Linked DNA regions of Homo sapiens: region 1 is linked to region 2. Evidence: fine-mapped expression QTL. A gene starts in region 2. The other region holds a variant in brackets. All regions are shown on one strand. Distances are from middle to middle. Region 1 overlaps FANCA (FA complementation group A). Region 2 holds the start of FANCA (FA complementation group A).

Region 1 (5,000 bases), 55 kb after region 2:
TTTTTTGAGACAACGTCTCGCTGTGCTCAGTGGTGCAGTCTTGGCTCACTGCAGCCTCTGCCTCCTGGGTTCAAGCAATTCTCATGCCTCAGCCTCTCCAGTAGCTGGGACTACAGGCGCCTGCCACCACGCCCGACTAATTTTGGTATCTTTAGTACAGACGGGGTTTCACCATGTTGTCCAGGCTGGTCTTAAACTCCTGGCCTCAAATTACCCACACGCCTTGGCCTCCCAAAATGCTGGAATTACAGGCGTGAGCCATTGCGCCCGAGAACTTGTTTTTTGTTGTTGTTGTTGTTTTGTTTTTTTTTTCTGGTGGAGTCTTACTCTGGGGCACAGTGGCGCAATCTTGGCTCACTGCAGCCTCTGCCTCTCTGGTTCAAGTGATTCTCCTGCCTCAGCCTCCCAAGTAGCTGGGACTACAGGCGCGCACCACCACGCCTGGCTAAGTTTTGTATTTTTAGTAGAGATGGGGTTTCACCATGTTAGGCTGGTCTCGACCTCCTGACCTCGTGATCTGCCCGCCTTGGCCTCCCAAAGTGCTGGGATTACAGGTGTGAGCCACTGCGCTCGGCCCCTGGGAACTTGTTTTAAACATGTCTGCCAGGCTGTGTGGTGGTCACTCAGGGTCTCTGGGCTCACCCATGTGTGCCTGGTTACTGGAGCTGGCATTGCTCTCACCAGTGTGCCTTGGTACTGATTTATTTCTGAGGATGTTTGCCTGGTTGTTTTGGTCTTTAGAAAAGAATTTCAAGGTGGCTGGGCACAGTGGCTCATGCCTATAATCCCAGCACTTTGGGAGGCTGAGATGTCAGGAGATTGAGACCATCCTGGGTAACACGATGAAGCCCCATCTCTACTAAAAATAGGAAAAAGTGATCCTTCTGCTTTGGCCTGCCAATATGTTGAGATTGCAAGTGTGAGCCACTGTGCCAAGCCTTTTGTGAAATTATTTTATTATTTTTAAATTATTATTTTTTTTTTTGGAGATGGAATCTTCCTCTGTTGCCCAGGCTGGAGTGCAGTGGCACAATCTTGGGTCACTGCAACCTCAGCCTTCTGGGTTCAAGGGATTCTCCTGACTCGGCCTCCCAAGTAGCTGGGACCACAGGTGCACGCCACCGCGCCCAGCTAACTTTTTGTATTTTTAGTAGAGATGGGGTTTCACTGTGTTAGCCAGGATGGTCTCAATCTCCTGACCTCATCATCCTCCCGCCTCGGCCTCCCAAAGTGCTGGGATTACAGGTGTGAGCCACCACGCCCAACCCTTTTTTTTTTTTTTTTTCGTATTTTTAGTAGAAACAGGGTTTCACCGTGTTAGCTAGGATGGTCTCAATCTGCTGACCTCGTGATCTGCCTGCCTCGGCCTCCCAAAGTGCTGGGATTACAGGCATGAGCCACCGTGCTCGGCCTCCTAAAAATGTTTTTAAAAAACTTAGCTGGTCATGGTGATGTGCACCTGCAGTCCCAGCCATCTGAGAGGCTGAGGGGGAGAATTCTGGAGTTCAGGAGGCAGAGTCTGCAGCGAGCTACGATTGCACCACTGCACACACTCCAGCCTGGGCAACAGAACCTGTTTCCAAAAATAAATGAAGGTATGCTACTGTGAATAGCTGTAGAATGTTGTTGTTTTGTTAGTTTCTTTTTTCTTTTTTTTTTTTTTCCTTTTTATAGATAGTTCTCACTCTGTTACTCACTGCAGCCTTGACCTCCTGGGCTCAAGAGATCCTCCTGCCTCAGCCTCCCAAGAGGCTGGGACCACACACATGTGCCACCACACCTGGCTGATTTTTAAATCTTTTGTAGAGACGGGGTGTCACCATGTTGCCTAGGCTGGTGTCAAACTCCTAGGCTCAAGCAATCTGCTGGCCTCAGCCTCCCAAAGTGCTGGGATTACAGGCATGAGCCACCGTGCCCAGGTAATTTTTAAATGAGATGAGGTCTTACTATGTTGCCCAGACTAAAATAGCC[G/C]TTTTATACTTAGAAAGAAGGATTACAGTACTAACATCTTTGTGCTAGGGAAATCCTGTAAGAAATCATTCTTGATAAAACTAAGGTTTCTTTCCTGTGGAACTCTCAGCTGCAATTTCATTATAACACAGGGACATGGAGGACTGCGTATGAGATGAAATGACAAACTGGTTTATAAACCTGTCGGTGGATTGTGTGTTCTGTCCTCATTGTATTGAATTGCTTGCTCTCTTTCTCAGTTAACTTACCAAGACTGGTTACACCTGGAGCTGGAAATTCAACCTGAAGCTGATGCTCTTTCAGATACTGAACGGTAAGTGTTGAAAAGAGCTACCCTGGCCAGGCATGATGGCTCACACCTATAATCCCAGCACTTTGGGAGGCTGAGGCAGGAGATCTCTTGAATCCAGGAGTTTGAGGTCAGCCTGGGCAACATGGGGAAACTCCATTTCTACAAAAAATAGAAAAGAAATTAGCCGGACATGCGGCACGTTCCAGTCATCACAGCCACTTGGGAAGCTGAGCAGGAGCATTGCTTGAGCCTGGGAGGTAGAGGCTGCAGCGAGCTGAGATCACACCACTGCACTTTAGCCTGTGCAACGGAGTGAGACCCTATCTCAAAAGAAAAAGGAGCTTCCCTTTAAAATGTTACACGGTTTTCCACATTGCCTTAAAGCCTATGTTTCGTCATTTTATCCTCAATTTAATGTTTGGTTTACCTGTTAATCTTTGAGCACAATTTCAATTTTTTTTTTTTCGGTGGCAAGATTTATTAAAGCAAAAGCGAAAGTAAAGCTTCCACGCGGTGGCAATTTCTGTTTTTCTTTTTTTTTTTTTTTTTCTGAGACAGAGTCTTGCTCTGTCACCCAGGCTGGAATGCAGTGGCGCGATCTCGGCTCACTGCAACCTCCACCTCCCGGGTTCACGCCATTCTCCTGGCTCAGCCTCCCGAGTAGCTGGGACTACAGGCGCCCGCCACCATACCCAGCTAATTTTTTGTATTTTTGGTAGAGACGGGGTTTCACCGTGTTAACCAGGGTGGTCTCAATCTCCTGACCTCGTGATCCACTTGCCTTGGCCTCCCAAAGTGCTGGCATTACAGGCGTGAGCCACCGCGCCTGGCCAGGTTGCCCAATTTCGGTTGTTATTCCTTTATTTAAGAAACATTTACTGAGCTCCTACCATGTGGCAGACAATTCTAGAGTGTTCTAGAAGCAGGGAGTATAGAGGGGAATAAACAAGCCTGCCCATATGGCACCTTTGTATCAATGAGGGCAGATGTGGCACGTATAAGGCACCCACTTAGACTTCACCCTACCCTGGCTGGGCTATGGCTGCTGTCCGGGAGCTGTACACCTGTGTCCAGGCCCTGGCAACACACAGGTAGATACAGAAGTGGATTAAAGGTAGGAATGAGCCCTGGAGATAACAGACAGGGCCGTGTGAGAGGAAATGACCAGGCAGGAGCAGAGGCTGGTGTGGAGCAGGTGGTGCAGACTTTGAGGAGTGATGCCAGCCTTGACTTGGGGGCACCAAGAAGTGGGTAAATGAAGCAGTGAACCCCCATGAGTCCCAGGGCTGATGACTGAGACCATTTGAGACTATTTGAGAGGCCAGATGTGCTGTTCTGGGCATAGGAGTAGGGAGCCCAGAGGACCGTTGGGTTTAAGGGTGTGGAGTTTAGGGTGGAGGTCAGGGAGAGGGGAATGTGGTCACTGCAGATATGGAGTATCCTGGTGGGTATATGGGCCTCAGGGTGCCTGCCACACCTAGACTCAGGAGAGGGTTGGCAACAGCCACCCTGTGCTCCTCGTCCTTCCGGCCATCAGGGGCCTTCCAGGCACATGCAGCACTGTCGCCTGCACCTGGATCCTGGTATCAGATTCTGGATGAAACCAATGGAAGTAATAGGAAAAGGAAAACATAGGGGCCACAAAAAGAAAACTCGCTGCTGCCTGCGGCAAAACACGTGCTGATGGTTCAGGTCGTGCCAAGCCCGCTCTGCAGGCGCTTCCTTCACTCACCCCCGTTTCTCCTCCCGGCTGCTCTCTGGGGTGGAGTCTAAGGAGGAGGTCAGAGGGAGGGGCTTGTCTGCTGCATGAGGTCATGCTGCATCAGGTCACCGCTGCGTGGAAGTTGTGTTGAGATGTGTTGCGGGATTTTCTTTCTTTTCTGAATTACTTAAGTGATACTTAGATACATTCTGTGCCAGTTCCAGACAGTGTGGGTGGAGCACCCCAGTTCCGGACAGCGTGGGTGGAGCACCCCGGTCCCGGACAGCGTGGGTGGAGCACCCCGGTCCCGCACAGCGTGGGTGGAGCACCCAGGTCCCGCACAGCGTGGGTGGAGCACCCCAGTCCCGGACAGTGTGAGGAGAGCACACACTCCCTAGCACTCACATTTGCAGGGTCGTGTGGAGCGTTTTCCTGGTTGTGGCTCTTTCTGCATAAATGGATTGCGGTATTGATGGTTCTGTGCACTGCGGATTTGTTTGTTTGTTTGAGACAGGGTCTCACTCTGTTGGCCAGGATGGAGTACAGTGATGCACTCACGGCTCACGGCAGCTTCCCTCTCCAGAGCTCGAGTGATCCTCCTGCCTCAGCCTCCTGAGTAGCTGGGACCACAGGTGGGCACTACTATGCCCAGCTAATTTTTTTATTTTTTGTAGGAATGGGGTCTCCCTTTGTTGCTCAGGCTGATGTCAGACTCCTGGGCTCAAGTGATCCTCCCACCTTGGCCTCCCACAGTGCTGGGATTACAGGTGTAGCCACTGCAGTTTTGAGTCAGTGTCTCCTTGAGCCCCTTCCCATCCGTATCCACAGAGTCCACAGTCTGGATGCAGGTTGCTTCACCATCCCCTTCTGGTGGGCCTGTGAGTAGCTCAGGTGCCCTCAGGTGACTTTCCAGGCTACTTTTTTTTTTTTTTTTTTTTTTTTTTTTTTTAGACGGAGTCTCGCTCTGTTGCCCAAGCAGGAGTGCAGTGGCATGATCTCAGCTCACTGCAAGCTCCACCTCCCAGGTTCATACCA
Region 2 (5,499 bases):
CATGTACGGAGAAGAGAGATTGTAATAAATAAAGACACAAGACCAAGAAATAAAGAGAAAACAGCTGGGCCCCGGGGACCACTACCATCAAGACGCGGAGACTGGTAGCGGCCCCGAACGGCTAGGCTCTTTGATATCTATTGCATACATGACAAGGGGGCAGCGTAAGGAAGGTGAATCTTCTAAGTGATTGACAAGGTGAAGCATGTCACGTGATTACAGGATGGGGGCCCTTCCCTTTCAGGTAGGTGAAGCAGAGAAAGAAGGCAGCATACGTCAGCATTTTCTTCTCTGCACTTATAAGAAAGATCAAAGACTTTAAGACTTTCACTATTTCTTCTACCGCTATCTACTACGAACTTCAAAGACGAACCAGAAGTAAGGGAGGAACATGAAAGTGGACAAGGAGCGTGACCAGTGAAGCACCACAGGGAGGGGTTTAGGCCTCCGGATGACTGCGTGCAGGCCTGGATAACATCCAGCCTCCCACAAGAAGCTGGTGGAGCAGAGTGTTCCCTGACTCCTCCAAGCAAAGGAGACTCCCTTTCATGGTCTGCTAAGTAACGGGTGCCTTCCCAGACACTGGCGTTACCGCTTGACCAAGGAGCCCTCAAGCGGCCCTTATGCGGGCATGACAGAAGGTTCACCTCTTGCCTTCCACTCACTTCTCACAATGTCCTTTCAGCACCTGACCCTATACCCACCGGTTATTCCTAGGTTATATTAGTAATGCAACAAACAGTAATATTAAAAGCTAATGATTAATGTTTATAATAATTGATAATTGTCCATGATCATCTCCATAATTTGTATTATGACTGTTCTTATTGTAACGATTTTATTATACTGAAATAGTTTGTGCCTTCGGTCTCTTGCCTCGGCACCTGGGTAATTCTCCGCCCACAGGACTACAGGCTCGTGTCACCACACTGGGCAATACAAAAAATACAAAAAAAAAATTTTGTATTTTTTGTAGAGACGAGGTCTTGCCATATTGCCCAGGCTGGAATTCTTACCTTTGTTACTGTATTTAACGTATCTTTTTCCTCCGGCCATCTTCATGGTTTTCTCTCTGATTTCCACAGTTTGAATACACTGCATGTGTCAGGCAGGGGCTCATATTTATCAAGTTTTGTGTGTGCTCTGAGCTCAGGTCTTTCATTATTTTGGGAAAATTATTGGTAATTTTCTCTTCAAACATTTTTTATGATTTGTTCTTTCTTCTTCTTTTGGGAGTCCTATTACATGCATATGATATCATTTGATATTTTCCCACAGTTCTTGGATGCTTTTTTTAAAAAAAAACTTTTTTTCTTCTTTATTTTCCAACGTGGGTAATTCCTATTTTTCTCAGCTGTGTTGATCCTACTGCTGCCCCATCAGAAAAATTACCTGTTATCAGCGTTCTTCCTTTCTTATAATTTGATGAGTTTCCTCCTCATGCATATTGTTCACCTTTCGTACAAGAGACCTCCACATATTAATCACAGTTAATTTAAATTTCCAGCCTGTTTCAATTTCTCGATCACCTCTGAGTCTAGTCCTGTTAATTGCTTAGTGTTATTTTTTGTTTTTGAAACAGGGTCTTGCTCTGTTGCCCAGGCTGGAGTGCAGCGGCGCGATCTCAGGCTGTTCCCTGAGTTCACACCATCCCCCTCAACCAGCAGATTGCAAAGTGTCCGAGTCGGGCCGTGCAGGAGTCTTTGTGGGGGTTTCATGGACTCCGAATTCTCATTTCTGCTCCATCCCCATCTCATGAATCCAAGGCCCCACTCTGTGCCTCGGCTCTTCGTTTGTGGTGCTGAACGTCATCTACGTCATCTACGCCATCTACGTAATCAACACAATAAAGACGCCTGCCGGGAACGCGGCCCTTCGGCTGAATCCCTTCGGTGGTTCCAAGGCCACTGCCAGAGGATGCGGACGGGTCTCCAGGGCCTCTACTTACCCAGGACTTTGAGGCACATTAGCTTCGCCTAGGCACTCGCTTTTACGAATTCTTATGTTTGGTTTTGTTTTGAGACAGAGTCTCGCTCTGCCGCCCAGGCTGGTTAAAAGATAGGGTCTCAGCCGGGTGCGGTGGCTCACGCCTGTAATCCCAGCACTTTGGGAGGCCGAGGCGGGCGGATCACCTGAGGTCCGGAGTTCGAGACTAGCCTGGGCCAACATGGCGAAACGCTGTCTCTACTAAAAATAACAAAAATCATCCAGGCGTGGTGGCGCGCACCTGCAATCCCAGCTACTCGGGAGGCTGAGGCAGGAGAATCACCTGAACCCAGGAGGCAGACGTTGCAGTGAGCCGAGATCGCGCCACTGCACTCCAGCCTGGGCGACAGAGGGAGACTCCGTCTCAAAAAAAGGAAAAAAAAAAAAAAGAAAAGAAACAAAAGTGATGGGGTCTCGCTCTGTTGCCCAGGCTAGTCTGGAATTCCTGGGCTCAAGCGACCCTCCAGCCTCGGCCTCCCAAAGCGCTGGGAATACAGGCGCGGCTACCGCGCGGTCTCCGGCTGCCGAAACACCGCCCTGCGCGCGGACCGTTCGGCCGCCGGGAGGAACAGCGGCTGCCCGGAGCTCAGAGGCGCGCGCGGCTTTGCGCTCCCCGCGGCGCTCTGAGCCTGCCTCGGCTTGGTTGGCCAGGTGGTCTCTTCAGGACCAACCCCAGTCATTCCCGGCAGGAACCACGCTTGAGGGGCGGCAGTCTGCCCGCGCGAGACGCCCCCGCGGACTACACCGCGGCGGCAAAGCCAAACGCAAAAACTACCTCACCGCGCGCAGGCGCCTCCCCCAGGACCAACATGGCCACGACGCAAGGCCTCGACCTGAGGGGCGTGGCCTGGCCGCCGCCAGCCAACGGGTGTGCGCGCCTGGCCGCAGCCAATAGGAAGGCAGCGCGGGCTCGGGCGCAGGGAGCCGCCGCCGGGGCTGTAGGCGCCAAGGCCATGTCCGACTCGTGGGTCCCGAACTCCGCCTCGGGCCAGGACCCAGGGGGCCGCCGGAGGGCCTGGGCCGAGCTGCTGGGTAGGTGGGCGCGGCAGGCCGCGGGAGTGGGCGGCGTCCGGCCCGGGACGGTTTCGCCGGTTCCCCGATCCCTTCCCGCCAGAGCCTCCGCCGGTCGGATCCCCGGACGCCGCGCCCGGGGGGCTGTGCGGGGTGGGCGCCCGGCTGGGGCGGCGCGGCTGCCTCGGACCCGGCCCCTCCTGCGCCTGGGCGGACGCCCCCAGCCGCCGCCCGCGGGGCGCTCCCTTCTTTCCCGAACGCCGCCCCCGCCGGCCGCCCTGTCAGGCGGGCCTGGGGTGCGCGGCCTGGGGCTCCCCTCAGCGCAGAGGCCGCCCCTCGCCAGCCGTCCCCGGGCTCCCCTGCCTCGGGCCCTCCTGGGCCGTCTTCCCCGGCGTCCGCGGTGGGGCCGTCTCCGTTAGTTTCCCGAGACCTGCGCCCTGGGGAGGAGCCCCGGCCCCTCTTCGGGAGGGTGTCGCTGGTGGGTTTCTCCGCGGCGTCCACCTGCGCGTCGGGCCGGGGACCCCGTGTGTGAATTGTGCTGTGATGGTTTCGAACCGACTTCTCTCCGTAGCGGGAAGGGTCAAGAGGGAAAAATATAATCCTGAAAGGGCACAGAAATTAAAGGAATCAGCTGTGCGCCTCCTGCGAAGCCATCAGGACCTGAATGCCCTTTTGCTTGAGGTAAGAGGAAGCTGGTGTCCGTCTGCGGGCAGATTTAGGTTCGGGGTTTTTGAGTCCAGCCACCGCACAGCTTTCCTAAGAAAACACCCGAGGCGGCGGGCGCGGTGGCCTGGCCCGCAGAGGGGAGGGTCGCCTGAGCCCGGGAGTTCTGGACCAACCTGGGCAACGGGGTGAGACCCCGCCTCTTTTATTAAAAACAAAACAACAACAACAAAAAAACAGGCCGGGCGCCGTGGCTCAGGGCTGTAATCCCAGCTTTTGGGGAGGCCAAGGCGGGTGGATCACTCAGGGTCAGGAGTTCGAGACCAGCCTGGCCAACATAGTGAAACCCGGTCTCTACTGAAAATACAAAAATTAGCTGGGTGTGGTGGCGCACGCCTTTAATCCCAGCTACTCGGGAGCCTGAGGCAGGAGAATTGCTTGAACCTGGACCCGGGAGGCAGAAATTGCAGTGAGCCGAGATCACGCCCCTTGCAATCCAGTCTGGATTACAGAGTGAGACTGTCTCACAAAAAAAAAAAAAAAAAAAAAAAAAAAAAAAGCCGGGCGTGGTGGCTCACGCCTGTAATCCTAGCCCTTTGGGAGGCCGAAGTGGGTAGATCACTTGAGGTTAGGAGTTCGAGACCAGCCTGACCAACATGGTGAAACCCCGTCACTACTTAAAATACAAAAATTAGCCGGGTATGGTAGCAGGTGTCTGTAATCCCAGCTGCTCAGGAGGCTGAGGCAGGAGAATCGCTTGAACCTGGGAGGTGGAGGTCGCCGTGAGTGAGATCCCGCCATTGCACTCCAGCCTGGACGACAGTGAGACTCCCTCTCAAAAAAGAAAAAAAGGAAAATAGCCCAGTAGGGAAGCATTACTTACACACAGGTTGTGTTTATGCACAGATCTTGAATTTTTTTTATTTTTATTTTTTATTTTCATTTATTTTTTTTGAGACAAAGTCTCACACTGTAGCCTGGGCTGGTATGCAGTGGGGTGATCTCGGCTCACTGCAGCCTCCACCTCCCGGGTTTAAGTGATTCTCCCGTCTCAGCCTCCCGAGTGGCTGGGACTACAGGCACGCGCCACCATGCCCTCCTAATTTTTGTATTTTTAGTAGAGACAGGGTTTCACTATGTTGGCCAGGCTGGTCTCGAACTCTTGACCTCGTGATCTGCCCATCTCGGCCTCCCAAAGTACTGGGATTACAGGCGTGAGCCACTACGCCTGGCCTGGAGCTTGAATTTTTTAAATGGAGTTTGTTGTGTTTTGGATTCTAGGTAGAAGGTCCACTGTGTAAAAAATTGTCTCTCAGCAAAGTGATTGACTGTGACAGTTCTGAGGCCTATGCTAATCATTCTAGTTCATTTATAGGTAAGTTATAGCTTCATTTTCTCTATTTTGAATTGCAGAAGGGTTTTTATATAGTAACCATAGTTTGCTAAATTAAGTAGAAATGTAAATTTTCTCAGGCGATGGGTTTCCACTGGTGTGTGTAGTCGCAAATTCTATGGGATGTTTGTGTGACTTGCTCTTGGGCTTCTTACGATGCTGTGTTTAAAAACAGCGTCTGATTCAACCTGCGACTCAGAAGCAGTAGGACCCAGAGTGTCCCTTGGAAAAACATGGGACATAGCAACAGCAGGGATGTGCCCCTTGCTCATGGAAGTAGTGAGACAGGCTGTGGTGTGCCCAGGAGAGCAGACGGGAGAACAATTTTCTAGGTACCTCCTTCTCCCCCCAGTTTGAGAGTGGGAGATAGGGTAAGTTCTGGGTCAACAACAGTAAGTTATTTTCTGATCCTTCACGTCCTTATGTGATGACTTGTTTCTGTTAAA

Evidence for each region.
Region 1: its variant is fine-mapped to the expression of FANCA in testis (GTEx, PIP 0.92).

Annotation. Positions count from the first base shown.
Region 1 is chr16:89,759,233-89,764,232 of GRCh38, reverse strand. FANCA (FA complementation group A) reads left to right here. Exons shown (of 43, transcript NM_000135.4): 29 at 2,211-2,284. Among named protein-coding and RNA genes, the nearest start is that of ZNF276, 40 kb to the right of the region's middle. The variant G/C (reference allele first, on the strand shown) is at 1,972.
Region 2 is chr16:89,814,056-89,819,554 of GRCh38, reverse strand. FANCA (FA complementation group A) reads left to right here and starts at 2,908. Exons shown (of 43, transcript NM_000135.4): 1 at 2,908-3,018; 2 at 3,569-3,678; 3 at 4,942-5,035. The coding sequence starts at 2,940. RefSeq lists enhancers at 2,245-2,294, 2,680-2,974 and silencers at 2,835-3,124, 3,355-3,404.